Linked DNA regions of Homo sapiens. The protein of the gene in region 1 interacts with the protein of each later gene in a pairwise test. Each region holds a gene or a part of one and is shown in the gene's direction. Other genes may lie near its edges.

Evidence for each region.
Region 2: the proteins of TBC1D13 (region 1) and ARHGEF5 interact in binary tests that used the Homo sapiens proteins (3 or more experiments, as listed by UniProt).
Region 3: the proteins of TBC1D13 (region 1) and SPDYE4 interact in binary tests that used the Homo sapiens proteins (3 or more experiments, as listed by UniProt).

Annotation. Positions count from the first base shown.
Region 1 is NC_000009.12:128,783,306-128,790,258, forward strand, and holds the start of TBC1D13 (TBC1 domain family member 13), read left to right. Parts: upstream 1-3,947; 5' UTR 3,948-4,048; coding exon 4,049-4,071; intron 4,072-5,028; coding exon 5,029-5,102; intron 5,103-6,953. UniProt on the Homo sapiens protein: Acts as a GTPase-activating protein for RAB35. Together with RAB35 may be involved in regulation of insulin-induced glucose transporter SLC2A4/GLUT4 translocation to the plasma membrane in adipocytes.
Region 2 is NC_000007.14:144,351,168-144,358,424, forward strand, and holds the start of ARHGEF5 (rho guanine nucleotide exchange factor 5), read left to right. Parts: upstream 1-4,234; 5' UTR 4,235-4,334; exon of another isoform or gene 4,335-4,551; intron 4,552-7,257. UniProt on the Homo sapiens protein: Guanine nucleotide exchange factor which activates Rho GTPases. Strongly activates RHOA. Also strongly activates RHOB, weakly activates RHOC and RHOG and shows no effect on RHOD, RHOV, RHOQ or RAC1.
Region 3 is NC_000017.11:8,755,524-8,762,804, reverse strand, and holds the start of SPDYE4 (speedy protein E4), read left to right. Parts: upstream 1-4,258; 5' UTR 4,259-4,422; coding exon 4,423-4,531; intron 4,532-5,312; coding exon 5,313-5,543; intron 5,544-6,368; coding exon 6,369-6,427; intron 6,428-7,199; coding exon 7,200-7,281.

The DNA of each region.
Region 1 (6,953 bases):
TCTCTCTCTCTCTCTCTCTCTCTTTTTTTTTTTTCTCACTCTGTCACCCAGGCTGGAGTGCAGTGGATTGATCATCATGGCTCACTGCAGCCTCCAACCTCCCAGGCTCAAGTGATCCTCCCACCTTAGCCTCCTGAGTAGCTGGGACACCAGGTGTGTGCCACCATGCCTGGATAAATTTTAAGATTTTTTACAGAGACGGGGGTCTCATTATGTTGCCCAGGCTGGTCTGGAATTCCTGCCTCAAGCAATCCTCCTGCCTTGGCCTCCCAGAGTGCTGCGATTACAAGCAAGAGCCACTGCACCTGGCCCTGTCCATGCTTTCAATGCCTAGGAATGGAAGTGCTGAGTCATAGGGTAATTCTATGTTTAGCTTTTTGAGGAACTGTCATACTATTTTCCATAGCAGCTGCACCATTTTACATTCCCTCCAGCACATGTGTGGGTTCCTATCTCTCCACATCCTTGTCAGCAATTATAACTGTCTCTTTTTTTTTTTTTTTCTTTTTTTTTTAAGACAGGGTCTCACTCTGTTGCCTAGCCTGGAGTGCAGTGGCATGATCTCGGCTCACTGCAATCTCTGCACTCCAGCCTGGGGACAGAACAAGACCTCATCCTGGGGAGGGGGGGAAAAATGTGGTGGTGGGGATTTAAAAATGTACAATAGGCCAGGCGTGGAGCCTTAAGCCTGTAATCTCTGCACTTTGGGAGGCCGAGGACAACAGATCACGAGGTCAGGAGATCAAGACCATCCTGGCTAACATCGTGAAACCCCGTCTGTACTAAAAATACAAAAACTAGCCGGGTGTGGTAGCAGGCACCTGTAATCCCAGCTACTTAGGAGGCTGAGGCAGGAGAAGCACTTTAACCCGGGAGGCGGAGGTTGCAGTGAGCCGAGATTGCGCCACTGCACTCTAGCCTGGTGACAGAGTAAGACTCCGTATCAAAAAAAAAAAAAAAAAAAGTACAATAGGCTTGGCATGGTGATGCACGCCTGTAATCCCAACACTTTGGGAGCCCGAGGTGGGTAGATCACCTGATGTCAGGAGTTCGAGACCAGCCTGGCCAACATGGTGAAACCCCGTCTCTGCTAAAATACAAAAATTAGCCAGGTGTGGTGGTGGGCGCCTGTAATCTCAGCTACTTGGGAGGCTGAGGCAGGATAATTGCTGGAGGCAGAGGTTGCTGTGAGCCAAGATTGCGCCATTGCACTCCAGCCCAGCCAAGAACAGAGAGACTGTCTCAAAAAAAAAAAAAAAAAAAAAGTACAATAAAGAACGGGCAATAGGGACAGGCATGGTGGCTCATGACTGTCATCTCAGCACTTTGGGAGGCAAAGGTGGGCAGATCGCCTGAGGTCAGGAGTTCAAGACCAGCCTGGCCAACATGGAGAAACCCGTCTCTACTAAAACTACAAAAATTAGCCAGGCATACTGGCGCGCGCCTATAATCCCAGCTACTTGGGAGGCTGAGGTAGGAGAATTGCTTGAACTCAGGAGGCGGAGGTTGTGGTGAGTGGAGATTGCACCACTGCACTCCAGCCTGGGCAACAGAGCCAGACTCCATCTCAAAAAAAAAAAAAAATTAGAAGGCCAGGTGCTGCCAGGCATGGTATCTCACGCCTGTAATCCCAGGATTTTGGGAGGCCGAGGAGGGAGAATAACCTGAGGTCAGGAGTTTGAGGCCAGCCTGGCCAACATGATGAAAACCCGTCTCTACTAAAAATACAAAATTTTTTTTAAATCAAAAAATATAAAAATTAGCCAGGCAGGGTGGCATGAACCTTTAATCCTAGCTACTCGGGAGGCTGAGGCAGAAGAATCGCTTGAACCCGGGAGGCAGAGGTTGCCGTGAGCTGGAGATCACCCCATTGCACTCCAGCCTCGGCAACAAGAGTGAGATTCCGTCTCAAGAAAAAAAAAAAAGAAGGCCAGGCATGGTAGCTCATGCCTGTAATCCCAGCACTTTGGGAGGCCTGAGGTGGGCAGACACTTGAGGTCAGGAGTTTGAGACCAGCCTGGCCAACATGATGAAACCCTATCTCTACCTCAAAATACAAAAATCAGCTGGGCATGGTGGCATGCGCCTGTAGTCCCAGCTACTCAGTAGGCAGAGGTTGCAGTGAACTGAGATTGCGCCACTGCACTCCAGCCTGGGGTGACAGAGTGAGACCATGTCTCAAAAAAAAGAAAGAAGAGTATATATGCATAGCAAACGTGTGAAGAGATGCTCAACATCATATGTCTTTAGGGAAATGCATGTTAAAGCAGGAGATACCACTTCACATCTACTAGAATGTCTAAGATTAAAAAGACTGACCACATCAAGTATTGGTGAGGACGTGGTACAACAGCAACTCTCATATACTGCTGGGGTAGGTGTTAAATAATACAACCATTTTGGAAAATATTTAAGCACTTTCTTTTCTTTTTCTTTTTCTTTTTTTTTTTTTGAGATAGAGTGTCGCTCTTTCGCCCAGGCTGGAGTGCAGTCGTGCAATCTCCACTCACTGCAAGCTCTGCCTCCCAGGTTCATGCCATTCTCCTGCCTCAGCCTCCCGAGTAGCTGGGACTACAGGCACCCACCACCACGCCCGGCTAATTTTTTTCTTTGTATTTTTTAGTAGAGATGGGGTTTCACCGTGTTAGACAGGATGGTCTCGATCTCCTGACCTCATGATCCGCCCTCCTTGGCCTCCCAAAGTGCTGGGATTACAGGCGTGAGCCACCGCGCCTGGCTAGCTGTTTCTTTCTTTTTTTTTTTTTCTCAAGAAAAAGGTGTTAAATAATACAACCATTTCGGAAAATCTTTAAGCAGTTTCTTTTCTTTTCTTTTCTTTTTTTTTTTTTTTTGACAGGGTCTTGCGTTTTTGCCCAGGTTGGAGTGCGGTGGCGCTATTGGAGTGCGGTGGCACTATCTCGGCTCACTGCAAGCTCCGCCTCCCGGGTTCAAGCAATTCTCCTGCCTCAGCTTCCTGAGTAGCTGGGATTACAGTTGTGCGTCACCACACCCGGCTAATTTTTGTATTTTTAGTAGAGACGAGGTTTCACCATGTTGGTTAGGCTGTTCTCAAATTCCTGACCTGGTGATCTGCCCGCTTCAGCCTCCCAAAGTGCTGGGATTACAGGCGTGAGCCACCACGCCCGGCCTACTCAACTAATTTTTACATCTTTTGTAAAGAAGGTAATCTCGAGGAGCTGGGATTACAGGCGCCTGCCACCACGCCCGGCTAATTTTTGCATTTTTGGTAGAGACGGGGTTTCACCGTGTTGGCCAGAGTGGTCTCCAACTCCTGACCTCAAGTGGTCTGCCTGCCTCGTCCTCCCAAAGCACTGGAATTTACAGGGATGAGCCACCGCGCCCGGTCCAGCCTATTTTTCTTAAGATATCATTTGTGTTTTTTTCTTTCTTCCTAACTTACATTTTATAGGGTTTGCTGGTATAGTTTTTATAAAAAAAAAAAAAGTTGGGCCGCGCACGGCGGTTCATGCGAGTCCCTGCTATACAGGCCTTGAGGATTCTGCAGAGACCAAGATAAGCTGGGGGGCCTGAACAGTTTAGCAGGGGAGGCCGAGACTCCTGTAACAATCATGCAGTAGTTAATTACAGGGGGGTGAGTGCAGGGAAGACGACAGGGTGACAGGTATATTGCGTAAGTAGACACTGAGGCCCAGGGAAGCGCAAGGAATAGTCCAGAGACACACAGTCTGCGCTGTCACCGGCGGGTTCTCAAATTTGGCCCGCAGGGTCGGCGGCGCTGGGGCTCCCGGCCCGCGATTGCCACGCCCACCAGACCCGAGGTTGCCCCGCTCAACCCGGCCGGCCGTAGCCGCCAGTACCGTGTGGAAGCGTGAGAGTCGAGGGGTGGCACGTGACTGGCGGGGCGGGGCGGGGCTGAGGCGGTGGAACGCGCAGGCTAGTGGCTGTGTTTCCCGCCGGAGGCTTTTGCGCAGAGCCCCGCGTCCCTGGGGGGCGGCGGCGGCGGCGGCAGCGCAGGCGGCAGAGGCGCAGGCGGCGGAGGCGGCTGGGGGGTCCGGAAGTCAACACCATGTCAAGTCTGCACAAGAGCCGGTAAGGGGCCATGGGGCCTGACCCGGCTGGGCCACTCCTGGCCAGGCTGCCCCTTCTGCCCCTCAGAAGGGGGAAGCGCGGGTGTGGCCAGGAATCGGCAGACCCCCTCGGCAGAGGGTCTCGAGCGTCCACCTTCTAACCTCATTGCCTGTGGGCTGCAGGAACGACGGAGGGGCGGCCCTTCTCCTGCCCCTGATGTCACTGCTTCTGCCTCCCTCATCCTGGACCCCTGGTGTCCCCCTTCCCCTGAGTCTTCCTCATCCAGACCCCCATGCCCCGCCCCCGTGCCTTTCCCCCTTTTGATCCCCCTGCTCCCGTACTCTCTCCAAGTGCACCCTGTCCCCCGTGCCTTTTTCTTACTAGGATTGCTAGAGAACTTGCATTCTCCAGTCTGGCCCCTCCCCCAGGCCAGATCCTGCAGCATTGGCTGAATTTTGCTCACTCTTCAGTTTTCCTTCAGGACGTGTTTTTTAAACCCTTTGTCCTTGCCTTCTGGCAGGCCCAGAGGTCTTGTAATGGTTATATTTGTGAGCATGGTCCATTGTCTGCATATCAAATTACTCCTGGTTCCTGAGGTCCAAGGAGTTCAGTTGGTGGCTGTGCGTGGACCCGGCCTGGCCGGCAGGAAGTGCCCAGTAAATGTCAGCTCACTAAGTATTAGAATGTTGGAATATGTCTAATTTTATGGTCCTCATTTGGGAACTTCTAGACAAGAATATCTCTCAAGTTTCTTCCCTGGCATTCTGTGTTTCTGGTTGTAGAGGAAGAAGTGAAATATAGTTTTGTTGTTCTCCAAAGCTGTCTTTGGTGAGGACCTTGACTAAGCTGTGTGATTTTTATGTCCTAAAGGGGAGAGAGGCACAGGTTGGAAACTGGCAGTGTGAGGGAGCTGAGGGCTGTGGGTCTCACTGAGCCGATATCAGCATGCTTCATTTGCCGCCCTATCTCCCCTTCCAGAATTGCAGATTTCCAGGATGTCCTGAAGGAGCCCTCAATTGCATTGGAAAAGCTGCGGGAACTCAGCTTTAGTGGTAAGAAGCCATTCTGTATTTTCACGGTTTCCCTACAGCAGCCCTGTGGCTAGAATACAGGGGGAGGCCACACCTGGTCAGCTCTGGGGCCCAGCTGCTGGGGGCTGGGGCCTTGGAAGGAAATTACACACAGACTCTTGGGGCCTTTTCCAGATTCTGTAGAGCTGAACAGGCAGTGACTGCCTTGAGCTTGGAGGGGTTTCCCAGAGGGGCAGTGGCCACACTTAGCATGCCCTAAGCTTTCCTAAGCTTTCCGCAGGAGGTGCCAGATTCCTGAGAGTAACAGGACAGGACTGAAGCCTGGAGAATGAGAGTTGGGACCTTTTGAGCCCAGGACAGTCTTTCCTCATTCCTTAGCTAGCTTCCTGTGTTGGTGAGTTTGGTTAACTGCAGGGTTGTTCCTTGTTCTCTCCCTGGCTTGGGGTCTAAGCTGCCTGAACTAAACCTTGGCTAGTGGTAAAATGGGTAGCCTTGGGACACTGACTTTAAGGAGCTGATCCTGCTGTGTTAGACTTTGCCCCAATGAGCACAAAGATAACTCTCTTTTTGCCTGTTTTAAAAAATATCCCAACGTGTTCTGCATAGCTTCTTGTCACTTTTTTGCCCTTGTAACTTTGCCAGCAAGAACTTCTGGCCGGGTGCCGTGGCTCATGCCTGTAATCCCAACATTTTGGGAGGCCAAGGCAGGTGGATCACCTGAGGTCAGGAGTTCGAGAACAGCCTGGCCAACATGGTGAAACCTAGTCTCTACTAAAAATATAAAAAAGTAGCTGGGCTTGGTGGCACTTGCCTGTAATCCCAGCTACTCGGGAGGCTGAGGCAGGAAAATCACTTGAACCTGGGAATTGCAGTGAGCCGAGATTGCGCCATTGCACTCCAGCCTGGGCGACAAGAGTGAAGCTCCATCTCAAAAAAAAAAAAAAAAAAAAGAACTTCTTATATTGTCCCTGTCATCCTCATATAGATTCTGAAGTGGAGGTATTCACTCATGTTCATGGTACCAGGGATACTACAGCAGCAACTGCGGTAGTGAGCTTCCTGATCTTATTGCAGGATAACTTTGTCTTTCTGTTTAGGAGTGAAATATAGGCCCCAAAGGAGAGGCAGTCAGTGTTAGTAGTTAAGAGTTTTACAGATAAGTTTCCTTCTTACGACAATTACGTTAATCTTCCCTACTTACTGGGGTAATAATGAAGATTAAATGAAATAATATCTGTAAAGCACAAAATACTTAGCATTCGTAGCTTAGTTTATATTCCACAAATATGTATGGAATATCTTCTATGTGCAGTGCTCTGTGCTATGCACTGGGAATAATAGATGTGGTTTTTGTCCTTCTGGGGCTTACCCAGTAGTAGGGGTTACAGACGTTAAGAAAATACACCATATATATATATATATATATAATAATTCCACTTATGACAGATGCTATGAAATAGTCACAGAGCCATTATTGCTTATAACAGGGGGAACTGACCTGAATTAGGATGACATGGTGGTGGTAAAGGCTGCTCCTGAGGAAGGAATATCAAGGATGAGAAGGTGTTATCCTCAAAAGAACATTTCAGGCCGGGCATGGTGGCTCACACCTGTAATCTCAGCACTTTGGGAGGCTGAGGCAGGTGGATCACCTGAGGTCAGGAGTTCGAGACCAGCCTGGCCAATATGGTGAAACCCTGTCTCTACTAAAAATACAAAAATTAGCCAGGAGTGGTGGCACACATCTGTAATCCCAGCTACTTGCAAGGCTGAGGCAGAAGAATTAGTTAAACCGGGGAGGCGGAGGTTGCAGTGAGCAGAAATCACGCCATTGCACTCCAGCCTGGGCAACAGAGCAAGACTTTGTCTCCA
Region 2 (7,257 bases), on another chromosome or scaffold:
CTAGGAGGCAGAGGTTGCAGTGAGCCTAGATCGTGCCACTGCACTCCAGCCTGGGCTGGACAGAGCAAGACTCCATCTCTGAAAAATAAAATAAAATAAAATAAAACAAAAAAACAGAATAGAAGAAGATAGCTAAGAACCACAGTGGTCAAGCCAGCCTGGCTTCAACAGAGATGAATGGAGAGACCACGGTCAGCCCCATTAACAGAAGAACTGGGGCCAGGAACGGTGGCTCATGCCTATAATCCCAGCACTTTGGGAGGCCGAGGCAGGCAGATCATGAGGTCAGGAGTTCGAGACCAGCCTGACCAATATGGTGAAACCCCATCTCTACTAAACATACAAAAATTAGCCGGGTGTGGCAGCACATGCCTGTCATCCCAGCTACTCAGGAGGCTGAGGCAGGAGAAACGCTTGAACCCAGGAGGCAGAGGTAGCCATGAGCCGAGATCACGCCATTGCACTCCAGCCTGGCGACAGAGCGAGACTCCATCTCAAAAAAAAGAAGAACTGAGTTCAAAATCAGTTCGAAAGGTTCAATGTTGGGTCACAGGATCAGGCAAAAAGCAGAGGCAGAAAGGCCTTAGGAGTGTTCCAAGAACTAGCACTGGACCAGCTGAGAGTCAGAGAGAGTTCACCACGTGGGAACAATGCAGCCAGTCATGTGGGATGGTGGCACCATGACAGTATCTAGTCAGGACAATGACAGCCCTAGGGATAATGCTGATGAGTTCCTGCTTCAAAAAAGGTCATTGTCATTCCTTTAGTCCTGATACCTAGAACTATACAAGATTGTTCCCTGCCTCTCCCCAAGCCCCATAACTTGATCTTAAAGGCATTATTGTCAATTAAAGTAGTCCCAAGTTCTAGAAGCTATTTTTATTCAGCCTCGTCTAATAGGGCTTTCATTTTAAAATAGCTTTATTTTGAATCTATTTACTGTTCCCAGCCCCTATCACTTTGTTCTTATAAACATATTCATTCCACATGCATCACTGACAGGCACTGCTAGGAAAGGAAACTAACCCATCTTGGCCACCTTTACACATCAGGTACTTATACTAAGGTGATTTCTATATATTACAGTATTGAATCACCACAACAATCCAGTGACGTAGGTATCATTACATATTATTATCCCCAATTAAGACATTAGGGAAATGAAACGTAGGAAGATTCAGAGAAAGCACAGGAAGGTGAATATGCCCAAGATTTCACATTAAGTAAATGGAATGCAGGATTCAAATTTACCCCTGTCTGAATCTAAATCTCATTCTCTTTCCATGGCATCATTCTCTCTCCTCTCTAGGCCTTTATAGAGGAAATATAGGCCCAAATAAAATATCAAAATCTCAGGATGGGATGACAGGCTTGATTAAGAAACCCAGTCACCAAGACCACGCAGTAAGAAATGAAAAAGAAAAAAAATAATAAAATGCTGAGAACCATAGTCTGCAAAGTGAAAGGAAGAATACCTGGGAGAGCTAGAGTGACCTCCACATGCAAATACACCCTGCAGACAGGAACAGTCTTGATGGGAAGAGCAAACTCCCTAAATGGTCGGTTGTAACTTTCCTACTAGTTGAAAAGTCAGGAAAAGCCTTGTGTGCTAACTCTCTGGACAAGCGCACAAGAATCCAGGGTTGTGACTTCAAAAAAAAATATGCTGACAAGTCAGAGCTGGCAGAACAAGAGGAGGTCGAGTTGATGAGAAAAGAGAGAGAGAGAGAGAGAGAGAGAGAGAGAGCGCTGTAATCAAGGAGAACCAACTGAAGCTGGAGGGAAGCAGAAAGAATAGCCAGGCTGGTTCAGGAGGCAGTTCTGGTACCTCTGACCCCATTGCCCACCCCCAGTAGGCAGCATGAAATATGCCAGAGGTCAACAATTTTTTTTTTTTTTGTATTTTTTAGACAGAGTCTCACTCTGTCACCCAGGCTGGAGTGCAGTGGTGCAATCTCAGCTCACTGCAGCCTCTGCCTCCTGGGTTCAAGCAATTCTCCTGCCTCAGCCTCCCAAGTAGCTGGGAATACGTGCCCACCACCAAGCCCAGCTAATTTTTGTATTTTCAGTAGAGAAGGGGTTTCGCCATGTTTGGCCAGGCTGGCCTCAAATTCCTGAACTCAGGTGATCCACCGGCCAAGGCCTCCCAATGTGCTGGGATTACAGTTGTGAGTCACCGCACCCGACCCAGAGGTCAACAGCTTCTGCCCTAGATCAGAAGTTTACTCACTTTGCTCACTCGGTATAAATCAAGGACCCTCTCATACCTGGGAATGAGTTTTGTATTCCAGCCTAGAAGTAGAGCCAGTCCCAGTTTGAACTTTTTGCCTTTCTGTACTCCCAGTTCTTACCCTTTTGCTGAGCCTAGGACACATGCAAGGCCTGCCCTTCTTAATCCAGATTTTTGAGTCTTAATCCCAATTTTTCCTATAGTTTCCCATACACTCCATGGCAGCTTAGAGTAGGCTGAAAACTGCTGAACTGTTTAAGACTTAATCCTTCAGAGTAACATGGCAGAAGTAGCACACTTTTTTAACATAAAGCTGTTCAGGACTCTATTACAGAAGAGGCTATACTTCCTTAATTACATTCTATTCTACAGCCACCTCAAAATAACTAGTGAACACGTTCAACCAGGATCATTGGCAACAGCCAATGGGCACAGTGATCTGGAAATGGTCTAGCCAAGCTGTTTGGGCTGTAGACCATGGCATTCCTAAGAGCAAAATAGGCAAGGAGTCCATTAATATTTCACTTGACTTATGTCACCATGGAAACCCCTGGAGTAGTGAATGGCTTTGGGGAGTGGTCAGATTCAACCAAAAATAACAGAAATCTCTGTCCCCCAGGTAAAGGATTCCTACTTTGTGTGTGTCTGTGTGTGCACACAGGCACACTCGAGAGACTTTTGGCATTCTTTGAAGTCACTGGAGGGGCACAGAGATAAACCCACTCAGCCTTGGCCTCCAAGACTAACAGAACACAACGTTTCCCTGAAAGAATAAAAAAAAAAATACAGGCATAAGAAAACACACAAACATGGGCTTAGAGATTTAAATACACACACACACACACACACACACACACACACACAGGCCCTAGAAGGAACATACACCCTGAGATACGCACTCATTCTAAAATAAACTCGGGAATACAGAAGGACACGGGCATGTCCTTTCAGAGAGGCACACTTCTAGGCCCTAAGTAGGAGAAGGAAGAGGGGAGAGGAAGAGGCAGGGAGAGGGACAGGGAGGGGGGAGGAGGGAGGGAGAGAGAGAGAGAAACGAAGAAGGGGGCGGAGGAGGAGATGGAGGAGACACTCTTTATTCTATAGGAGGAGACATCACGGAAGAGAAATCAACACTGAGGCCTTGGCCGGGCGCGGTGGCTCACGCCTGTAATCCCAGCACTTTGGGAGGCCGAGGCGGGTGCATCACCTGAGGTCAGGAGTTTCCAGACCAGCCTGGCCAACATGGCGAAACCCGGCCTCTACTAAAAAATACAAAAATTAGCCGGGCATGGTGGCGCGGACCTGTAATCCCAGCTACTCGGGAGGCTGAGGCAGGAGAATCTCTTGAACCCGGAGACGGAGGTTGCAGTGAGCCGAGATCGCGCCATTGCACTCCAGCCTGGGCAACAGGGCGAGACTCCGTCTCAGAAACAACAACAACAACAACAACAACAACAACATCAACAACAACAACAACAACAACGAACAAACCAAAAACCAATGAGGCCTGAAGATAAAGACACATGTACAACCACGGATGTCAGACTTCCAGAGGCACGGCCAAGGCAAAAGACAAACACATACAGACTGCAGCAGGCAGACAGGCCGGTTCCAGAGTCAGGCTCCGGTGAAGCTCCGAAGAAACAAACACGCAGGGAGATTTCGGAGGCGTCCGAGGACACCGTGGGGCCCGGCTGGCTCCCTCTGTCTCTGTGCGCGCCCCTTCCCCGGGTCACCCCGCCTGCGCCCGACCTGCGCCCGCGCACCGCGCCCTCGGGGCTCCCTGGGACAGCCCGCGGCCTGGCCCGTGCGCCCGGGCTCCCCTCCCCGCCGGCCCGGCACTTCCCAGCTCTGACGCGGGAGCTTCTTTCACACCAATGGGGCTCGCGCGCGGAGGGGCCCTGCCCCTCCTCCGGGAAGGTGTGTCCCTGTTTCCTCACCTGAAACTTCCTAGGAGAACCCGATCCCTCCCTCCCGTCGGGCGGCCAGGGGCGGGCCGCGGGTGGGGCGGCCGGGCCTGCGCTGGGGACGGCTCTGGGGACTGCGGCCGGCGCCGGGACCTGGAGGGGACGCTGGGGCCGAAGCAGCATGTGACACCGACCAGGTGGGTGCCCTCCTCCCGTCTCGGCCCTGGGCTCCCGGCGGCTGTGGAGCCCGGCGGAGGTGGGGCAGGGACAGGAAGGAAGAGGAAGCCAGGCCTTTCCCAGGGATCAGCCCCCGCTGGGTCCGGGGCGCAGGCTCCGGAAATGGGGGGGCTGGGCCCGCAGGCAGGGCTCGGGGTGTGTGGCTGAGGACCCTGGTGGGGAAGAGGAGAGGAACTAGAGGAAATGTTGTTGCCTACAAGTTTGCTTCCGGTCGGGTCCCGCCTAGGAAATGGGCACCCTGCCCCCAGACGTTCCCCGGGCCAATAATCAGGGCTCTTTCTTCAAAGTAGGCGCCCTGGGGAAAGCTAAGCCATATCAGAAGGAATAACTGAGATTCCCTTTCTAGGCTGTTCCTTACCTGGAGAGGTTTTATCGGCTCCTTTTCCTTAACCAGGCCGGGGCCTTTCCTTATGTATCTCCATAGGTATTTGCATACTGTGTGAGTCTATGTGTAGCTTCTCTCCGTGTTAACCAAAGCTCCGTAACCTGGAACAGTGAATCCTGCCCTGCCCCTCACCCCAGTTCCCTACATATGGGGAGCCTCCTAAAGCTTGATGTGAATCACAACGTTGCATTCTTAGCAAGGTGGAAAGAAGTTATTTAGAGTTGGGGGCTGAGGTAGGCGTTGGGGTGCTAGAATGCGGACGCAGAGCTCTAGAACCCCTGAGCATCTTTTGCAGTTGCCTTCCGGCAAGACTACCGGAGGAGAGCCAGTTGTGATACTACGTCATTTCCAGATCTCAGTCCCTTTCTTCCCTTCCTGGATCTTGGGTTCCAAAGACAGATTTGCCCTCCTGTCTACCTAGAAGTGAACTCTGGCCAGGACTCTTGTCTGGTTGAGAGAGAAGGGTGTGTCAAACAGATGAGAGAGGGTGGTTTTCCTTTCGAGCTTCCTCCCTAGCTTGCTCCCCTACTGCACTCCACTGTCTGGCCTTGCATCTTGGGCCTAATCCAGAGGTCCCAGCTCCAGCTAAAAAGCTCTTGATGTGGCCTCTGTCTCAGACGTCTTGTTTTATCCACATTTGGAGCATGAAGAAGTTCCTGGCATAGGCCTTAGCAAAATGGGTGTCATTTGTTAACCAATCTGTGGGCCTAAAAGTGAAGCCATGGCTAGTGAAGGAGTCCTGGGGAGCTGGGAAGATGGGATGAGGGCGTGTCAGTTCTGGGTGAGACTGATATGCAGGAGGAATGTATGTCATGGTCCTAGTGGGGAGGAGAGAGAAATCAGGAGGAGTGCAAAGGAATCCCTCTCATCAACAGAATATAGTGATTCTCAATAGAGAGAAGAGTGTTCATATATTAGAGGTCCTGAGAGTGTATCAGTGCCCTTAACGCGGTCTGTCTGAGGTTCCGTGGCCACGTTACACGTGGTGTCTGTGGGATAGACAGGAATACGTCATTTGTGGTGTCTGGAGAGGTCAGTCGCTATGTGGTATGGACAGGAATGGAGTCACTCGTAGGGTCTTGGGTTCAACGGGAGCAGCATTACTCAAGTGTCAGTGGTGTAGACAAACAGGTGACCAACAGCTCTAGTGTAGACAGGGGCTGGGTCACTCACAGTGTCTGTGGAGTAAGCAGGAGCCGATCACTTATAGTGCCTGCAAGGTAGACTGGAACAAAGTCACCCTCAAGGTCTGTGTTAATACACAAACACGTCACTCACACTAATGTTATCTGTGTGTATGCCACCAGGACCACAGATGAGATTGTAGAGTGTAAGTCAGCATTGACACTAATAATGTTCTTATATAAACTATCTGGTCTATAAGGCAGTTGGTGTGACATTTTCAGACATTAGAGAATAGATAAATGTGTATTACAGCTTTCACTGGCATGGTGGGACTTTCCTGCAATGGATAGAACACACACTGTAGTAGTCAGTGGTCCAGAAAGCTACCCCTGTTTTGATATCTTTGTAGTATTGAGGGCAGTGATGTCAAACAGTGAATAAAGTTATATATCTATGTGGTGATCTTATTTTAACCTCAATATTATTTTAGTGATTTGTAAGTCAGAATATTTGAAATCAACCTTGCTAGAAAATCCAGGAAGCATGGTCCTCAAAAATATATATATGGCACTGAGTCTCAGTTCAAAGATTTGGCAGTTTGATTGGGGAGGGGTTGTATCCTTGAAATACAGTGTTGTTTCTAGTGACTAGAAATAGACAAGAGCTAAGGTGTTGGGGGGGGCTCTAGGGAAGATAGTGAGCTCTGTCACACATTATGTTAAAGGGATGACTTGAAGCTTTGCCTCTCAAGAAGTCACACGTGGGTGAGGTTATGTGGATGCAGAATGTCTGTGGTCTGAAGCAAGGCCGTATCCCCATAATCCCATGCCCTGGCTTTGCCTGTACACAGATAAACAGTGATTATTCACCCTCAGTGGAGAAGGAGATGAGGATGTTTGCACTCTAACGTAATGAGCATTGCAAAAAACTCTCTCCTGATGCCTTTACGTGAGTAAGACCATGATTTACAGATTTCCTTTCACTTTGTCACATTTTAGCTTTGTCATGCCTGATTGCAACGGGATCACTGAGATAGGATCAAGTATAGGGAACGTGGGGTATGTTCTCCCTTTGCGGTAACTGGTGGCTGAGCAGGTGACCACTGATATTTCCAAATGAAAAAAGACAGTTAGAAACGGTGTCAATGGGCTTGCAGAGGCAGGCATGCACTGTGCCACTAGATTGGAACAGAAAATGTCCAGGTAGCACATGGTATTTATAGATATACCCTAGATATGGCAGAAACACACTTTTATTTAGAGGCTACTTGTTTTGAAGACGTGATGGTGTATATGGAGGAGAGGGCCTGAACCATGCAGATGTAAGTGAGGAGAGACTACAGGTTTAGTCCCATGGTCTCCTTAGGCCAAGTT
Region 3 (7,281 bases), on another chromosome or scaffold:
TACAGATGTATAAGTTCACCTATCAGACTGGCAAAAGTTTAAGAGATTGATAACATACTATATTGGTGAGTGTCTTAGTCAGTCTGGGCTGCTCTAACAAATTACCATAGACTGGGAATCTTAAACATTTCTTTCTCACAGTTCTGGAGGCTGGGAAGTCCAAGATCAGGGTGCCTGGAGAGGCAGTGTCTGCTGAAGTTCAGCTTGCTGGTTTGCAGATGGCTGTCATCCTATTGCTCCCTCACATGGCAGACAGCAAAGAGAGAGAAAGCAAGCTCTTTCTTTTCTAAGAGAGAGGGCACTAAACCCATCGTGAGGACACCACCCTTAGGAGCTAATTACCTCCCAAAGGCTGAATATCCAAGTACCATTACGTTGGAGATTACGGTTTGATATGGTTTTTCTGTGTTCCCATTCTAATCTCAACTTGAATTGTATCTCACAAAATTCCCACATGTCATGGGAGGGACCCAGGGGGAGGTAACTGAGTCGTGGGGGCCGGTCTTTCCCATGCTATTCTCCTGATAGTGAATAAGTCTCAGGAGATCTGAAGGGTTTATCAGGGGTTTCCGCTTTTGCTTCCCTTTCATTTTCTCTTGCCGCCGCCACGTAAGAAGTGCCTTTCACCTCCTGCCATGATTCTGAAACCTCCCCAGGCATGTGGAACTGTGGGTCCAATTTAAACCTCTTTCTCTTCCTAGTCTTGGGTATGTGTTTATCAGCAGCGTGAAAACGGACTAATATAGGGTTTCAACATATGAATTTTGGGGGCACAGATTCAGTTCACAGCACTGAGGAGCAGGGAAATGAAGACTCTACATTTTGGGTTGGAATTTAAACTTGTGAATTAGACTGGTAAAGTCTTCAGAGGCTCAGATATGATGTGTGAGCCTTGTGACTTCTGAGGATGAAGGCTGTGTTCTGGCAGCTCTCTCACCAGTGGCAAAAAACAGAAAAGTATCCTTTCCATTGGATATCCTGCTACAGAATGAATTTTCACATTGAACATTTAATTTCCCATTTAAATAAATCCACCTGGAATTTGATTTGTATATGTCTGTTTTCCAAATAATGAGCTAGTTGTGATCGCATGATTTGTGGCTTAATCTCTACTTTCCCCACTGGGATATGCCATGACAGCATTTAATGCATTCCTATAGAAACTTGGGTTTATTCTGAACTTTCTATTCTCTTGATTGTATCAAGGATCATAAACTGGGACCCTGTAACCCGTTTCAGGCCTCCAGATCCAGATTTGTGTTTGGTCTTGTTTTGGTTTTGGTCAGAAGTGTCTTTGAAAATTGTGGATTTTCATGCCTTTAGGCAGCTCACAAAGTCAGGGCTATCTTAGAGCAAGATACTTGCCCAAGCTCTTAGAGCACTTGAGGATTTTGCCGGAGTGACACTAGCAACATGCTGTTTTAACACTTTCACCTTAGAACACATTTTGGTGTCTGGCAGTGGACATTCCCTCTCATTCTTCTTTTGTGATGGTTCCTTAAGTACTCAATTCTCTAGATAAACTTTTACATTGTTCTGTCAACATCTGCGGGGGGAAAAACTCTTTGAGATTCTGATTGCAATCGCATTAAATTCCTAAATTCATTTGGATTGAATGTACAGTTTTACCATATTGAAACATCATTTAGACATTTTGTAAGTCTCTATTCAGTTCTTTTATATTCTCAGTGAAAATTTTTAGTGTTTCTTCTTTTAATTGAGATGCAGTCTCACTCTGTCACCCAGGCTTGAGTGCAGTGGCGTTAACTCGCCTCACTGCAGCCTTCGCCTCCCAGGCTCAAATGATCCTCCCACTTCAACCTCCTGAGTAGCTGGCAGTACAGGCATGCGCCACCACACCCAGGCTAGTTTTTTATACTTTGGTGGAGACAGGGTTTCGCCAAGTTGCCCAGGCTGGTCTTGCACTGCTGCGCTCAAGCAATCCTCCTGCCTTGGCCTCCCAAAGTGCTGGAATTACAGTTGTGAGCCAATGTTAGGGGGCTTGTCGACCAGCATACAGGGGCCTTGGAGGCTGCTTCAAAAGTTCCCACTAAGCCAAGGATACAAAGCCTGGTGACAGCCCTCCCATGTGAGGCCCAGGTCTTACTTACCTCGCTCAAAAAATCTTTCCTGCTCATTTCATTCGAGAGTGATTTTGCTTTCTTTGGGATCTCTATTGCGCTGCCCCACCCAGAGAGTTCCAAATCTGAATGGACTCCAATGATGAAGTTAAATCAGCCCCCACCTCAGTCCTTTGGAATTAGAATCTGTGGGGCTGGGTCCTGGCATCTGTATCTTAATGTTCCTAGTTGAGATCCTTAGGCTGAAAGGCTGGTATTTGCAAAGCACTTCTTCTCCTCCAAACTCAGCCTCCGAACTAGCTGGGACTACAGGTGTGTGCCACCACACCAGGCTAATTTTAAATTTTTTTGGAGAGACGGAGTCTCACAACGTTACTCAGACTCATCTCCAACTCCTGGGTTCAAGTGATTCTCCAGCCTTGGCCTCCCAAAGTGTAGGGATGACAGGCAGGAGCCACCATGCCAGCCAATAAAGCCCTTCTGTTTCACTCTAATGATATCTTTGGTGCATAGCTACAGCCATTGTTGTATTAACCTGCATCACTGAAGGAAAAGAGAAGGGGAGAAGTGATAGTTTTGCTTTTCCCTGAACATATCAGATGAAACCTGAACTGTTTAGCTCATTTTTGGACAATGTATTGACATAATTTAAGATGGCTGCCTTATTGTAGCCTGTCTACAGAAGGTGCCTAGAAGACAGAGGAATATGTAAAACTGGCTTGAAGAGTGATTAATCAGAACTTTACGTGGTACAGAAGAGAAATTTTAATGGCAACAGAATATTGATCTTCTAATGTTTGAAAGCCTATTAAATAGGAGAGAAAGATGATTTTCTGTTTTGTTGTAAAAGGATCCAACCAGTTCTGATGGTTGAAAGCATCGTGAATGCGAAGGTCCACTCAATGTAAGCAGAGTTTCCTAACAATTGGACTTCCACAGCGACGGGATCTGCCTCCTCATTCAGTTGTGCCTTTCCCATCAGCGAGAGACTCCTAGGAGCCCATTAGGAAGCTGTGCCAGAACTCACAGGTTCTTTGGATGGTATCTGAGATAGTATCCAGCTCTTACATTTTTATTTTTTCCGAAAAAAATATTTTTGAGACTGAGTCTCACTCTGTCCTCCAGGCTGGTGTGCAGTGGTGCAATCATAGCTCACTGCAGCCTCAAACACTTGGGCTGAAGCAATCCTCCTGCCTCAGCCTCCCAAGTACTGGGACCACAGGTGTGTGCCACGATTCCTGATTACTTTGTTTATATTTTGTAGAGATGACGTTTTGCTATGTTGCCCAGACTAATCTTGAACTCCTAACCTCAAGTGACGCCCTGCCTTGGCCTCCCAAAGGAGGGAGATTATGAGCAGGAGCCCCTGGGCCTGGCTGAGATTTTCCCCTTAGTCTTTTTATACACAGGATATTTTATTCATAAAATACATAAATAGTAGGCAAATTTTGGGGTCAAGTGAAATAGATATGTTGTAATAGTTGATATATAGACCAGAGTTCCTTAGCTGAACTGGAGGGCAGGCTTTAGGTGATCCATGGATGCCCTGAACTTGTGGACACCATTGAAAATCTGTACGAAACCATGGACAGTCTCCTGTGATTTTCATTCCTCAAAATGTCTCTTGGACTCAAAGATGCCTGAGAGCAAAGGATGCATGTTCCCCTACTATAGGATCCAGGATAGTGAATATCAGTAAACATTCAGCAAAAAAGCTTTGCCACATTGAGTACTTCGACGTAACGTCTCCATTCAACAAGTCAATTTACCCAGGATCTCCTGTATATGTTAATCTCACTCTTGGAAGGACTCATCATTCTGCTTACCCTAAATTTCCTTCCACCTTCCTCCCTCTCTCACCAGACTAGACTCTGAAATGGGAAGGAGAAGCGGGGAGGAGAGCCCAACACCCCCTCAAGTTTAGAGTGGAGAGGACACAGCCTCTGCTGGGACAGGGAAAAGAGGAATGTGGAGACCCTGAGGATGCTTTTGGACAATGCTCAGAGGTTGGGACATTGCCAGGAGATACCGTTCACCCCGGATCTCCAAGAAAAGAGATCAGTCTGGCAGTTACATGTGTTTTTCTTCAAAGTAGTTGCCAGTTTGGAATGACCGATGACATCAGAGATTCCGACTTTCCTGATTGGAAGGACCGGACTCTGGTTGCTTGGGAGTTCAGGTGGACAACAGCAACTTCTCAGAACTACTCTTCACTCCTAACTTCTCCCGAGCCTCTAGAAGAGAAACGCACTCTTCTGGGTCCTAACGGAGTCTGGAAGAAGGCTTTGGACAGAACAGGGACTAGGTTTTGTGGACAGAAACAAAGTGTTTGGGAGAGATTATGGCCAGTGGTCAAGCGCGCCCCCCGTTTGAGGAGGAGAGCCCCCAGCCTAGCACAACGGTACGGTCCCCCGAGGTGGTGGTGGATGATGAAGTGCCAGGACCATCAGGTGAGGTGACTGGAGGGAGAAGCGATGGGAGATGATTGACTGAGGAGAGGGAAGGGGGCCAGTTACTGGGAATCTGAAGCACCTGAGTAGGGTGTGTGGGAAAGAAACGACGGACTCAGGAAGCCAGGGATCGGGGAAGGAGGGTGCAGGGAATGGGGCCAAGCATGGCCACGTGTAAAGAAAGTCTGGGGAGCAATGAAGGGGGTCAGGAGATGTGCTCAAAAGATGAGAGAGGAAGGCCGAGGCGGACGGATCACGAGGTCAGAAGATCGAGACCATCCTGGTTAACACGATGAAACCCTGTCTCTACCAAAAATACAAAAGTGAGTTGGGCATGGTGGTGCGTGCCTGTAGTCCCAGCTACTCAAGAGGCTGAGGCAGGAGAATCATTTGAACCCAGGAGGCGGAGGTTGCAGTGAACCAAGATTGTGCCACTGCACTCCGGTCTGGGCAACAAGAGGGAGACTCCATCTCAAAAAAAAAAAAAAGAGAGAGAGAGAGAGAGAGCAGACAGAGCTCAAGGGAAGGTTTCCATTTTTCTCCAATTGAAAGTTCTTATCTGTGATGAGGAAATGTTTTGAGGACAGAGAGCCGGAAGAATGGGGAGGTGAGGGAGAGGCAGATGGGGATCAGCAAAGGAGAAAGGTGGAAACATGGCTTGGAGAAGCTGACAGTCTGCGAGGCTTGGGAGGATGGAAGAGTAGTTTGAGGTTCCTGGGTCGGGGCGTCTAAGGTGATCAATGGCAGAAACATGACACCATGGCCTGGTTTCTTCACTCAGCCCCTTGGATAGATCCCAGCCCCCAGCCTCAATCCCTTGGCCTGAAAAGGAAGAGCGAATGGTCAGACGAATCCGAGGAGGAGCTGGAGGAGGAGCTGGAGTTGGAGCGCGCCCCTGAGCCCGAGGACACCTGGGTGGTGGAGACGCTGTGTGGGCTCAAGATGAAGCTGAAGCGAAAGCGAGCATCCTCCGTGCTCCCTGAGCACCACGAGGCCTTCAACAGGCTCCTTGGTAGGAGGATACCCCAAAAAGCACCTCCAACCCTGTTCTTTTAAAAAAGTGGAATCTTTCAATAATCACACTTTCCCAATAAGAAGAATATGCCCTCCTGGGGGATGAGCGCTCCATGCAGGAGGAGGATGCTTAGGAGATAGAGGATTAGGCTAGTCTTAATAAAGGTCTGCACTTGAAATAAGAAAGCTTGGTTTCTGGCCAGGTGCAGTGGCTCATGCCTGAGATCTTGGTGCTTTGGGAGGCTGAGGCGGGAGGATCTCTTGAACTCAGGAGTTTGAAGTTGCAATGAGCTATGATTGCACCACTGCACTCCAGCCTGGTTGACAAGGAAAGACCCTGTCATAAAATAAATAAAATAAAATAAAATAAAAGATAAAAGAAAGCTTGGTTTCAGCTGTACCCTCTGAAACTCTATGTCTCTTGATGACTTTTCTAAACCTAAGTGTCTCCATCCGTGGAGGGGGATAACAAGGCCATGGGCACACCCAGCTGTGACTATCTCAGGAAGCAATGATGGGAATTCTATTATGACTTCTGCAGTGGTCCCTTCCTGTCTGATGGGAGGACATCATGGCTTATTCACAGCTCTTCATCCTGTAGACTCTGACACCAGAGGCCTCCTTCGGCCTCTCCTCAGGGGAATCTCAGAGCGGGAGCCTCCCTCCTTGCCCAGTGAAAGTCCTTCTCTCCTCTCCCATCCACCTAAGCCTTGGCCACAATCCTGAGACTTCCCCCAGAGGGACACAGTTCTCCTCTCTGCTCTGCTGCTCCCACGGCAACCCTGTTCCACTTCTCACCCTGACACAGGCTCTCTTTTCACAGGGGATCCTGTCGTTCAAAAATTCCTGGCCTGGGACAAAGACCTGAGGGTGTCAGACAAGGTAAGGTTGTTCTCCACTCAACTGTGTTCCTGCTTTAACACACGTCCTGGGGAAGGGTGCAGCGTCTAAACCCACAGTTTCTCTCCTCTCTCCCTCTACCATCTCCCACCTGCTGATTCCATACTCTTGGGCGCCCACATTTTGATTTTTATTTTTTCAGAAACAGGGTCTCGTTCTGTTGCCCAGGCTGGAATGCAGTGTTGCCATCATAGCTCACTGCAGCCTCAGCCTCCTGGGCTCAAGTGATCCTCCCGCCTCGGCCTCTCCAATAGCTGGGACTCCAGGCGTGAGTCACCGCCCCCAGCTATTCTAGGTCTTCTCATAATTTGTCAGCATCTCCCTCGGGGCTCTGGTAGCCTGTTGCATAGTTGATGGGTGGCCCCTGCCTCTGCACAGGGTCCTTTGGAATCCAGGCCCTGGGCCAGTCTTGAAACTCCTGACCCCTATCCTCTCAGATCTTTGGGACAGTCCTTTGCCCCAGCTCACCAAGACCCTCCTGACATTAGCAGCCCTAGACACTCTCCCTCCAGTGATCCCACTGGAGCTCATCATCATGGGAGCATCACAGACCTCCCTCCCTCCGACTTCCCGGATTTGCAGCTGACTTTGAACACTCTCCACCCGCAAGCCCCCAATGAGCATAGTCACCCAACACTGAGGTTCCTTCTGTGATAGACAACCGCGCCCCAGCCCCTGTTCCCTTCTCTCCACCATCTTCCTCTTCCAGGATGTGACCAACCTTTCTCTCTCTCTACTCCCTTCTCTCCATCAGTATCTCCTGGCTATGGTCATAGCGTATTTTAGCCGTGCCGGCCTCTTCTCGTGGCAATACCAACGCATTCATTTCTTCCTGG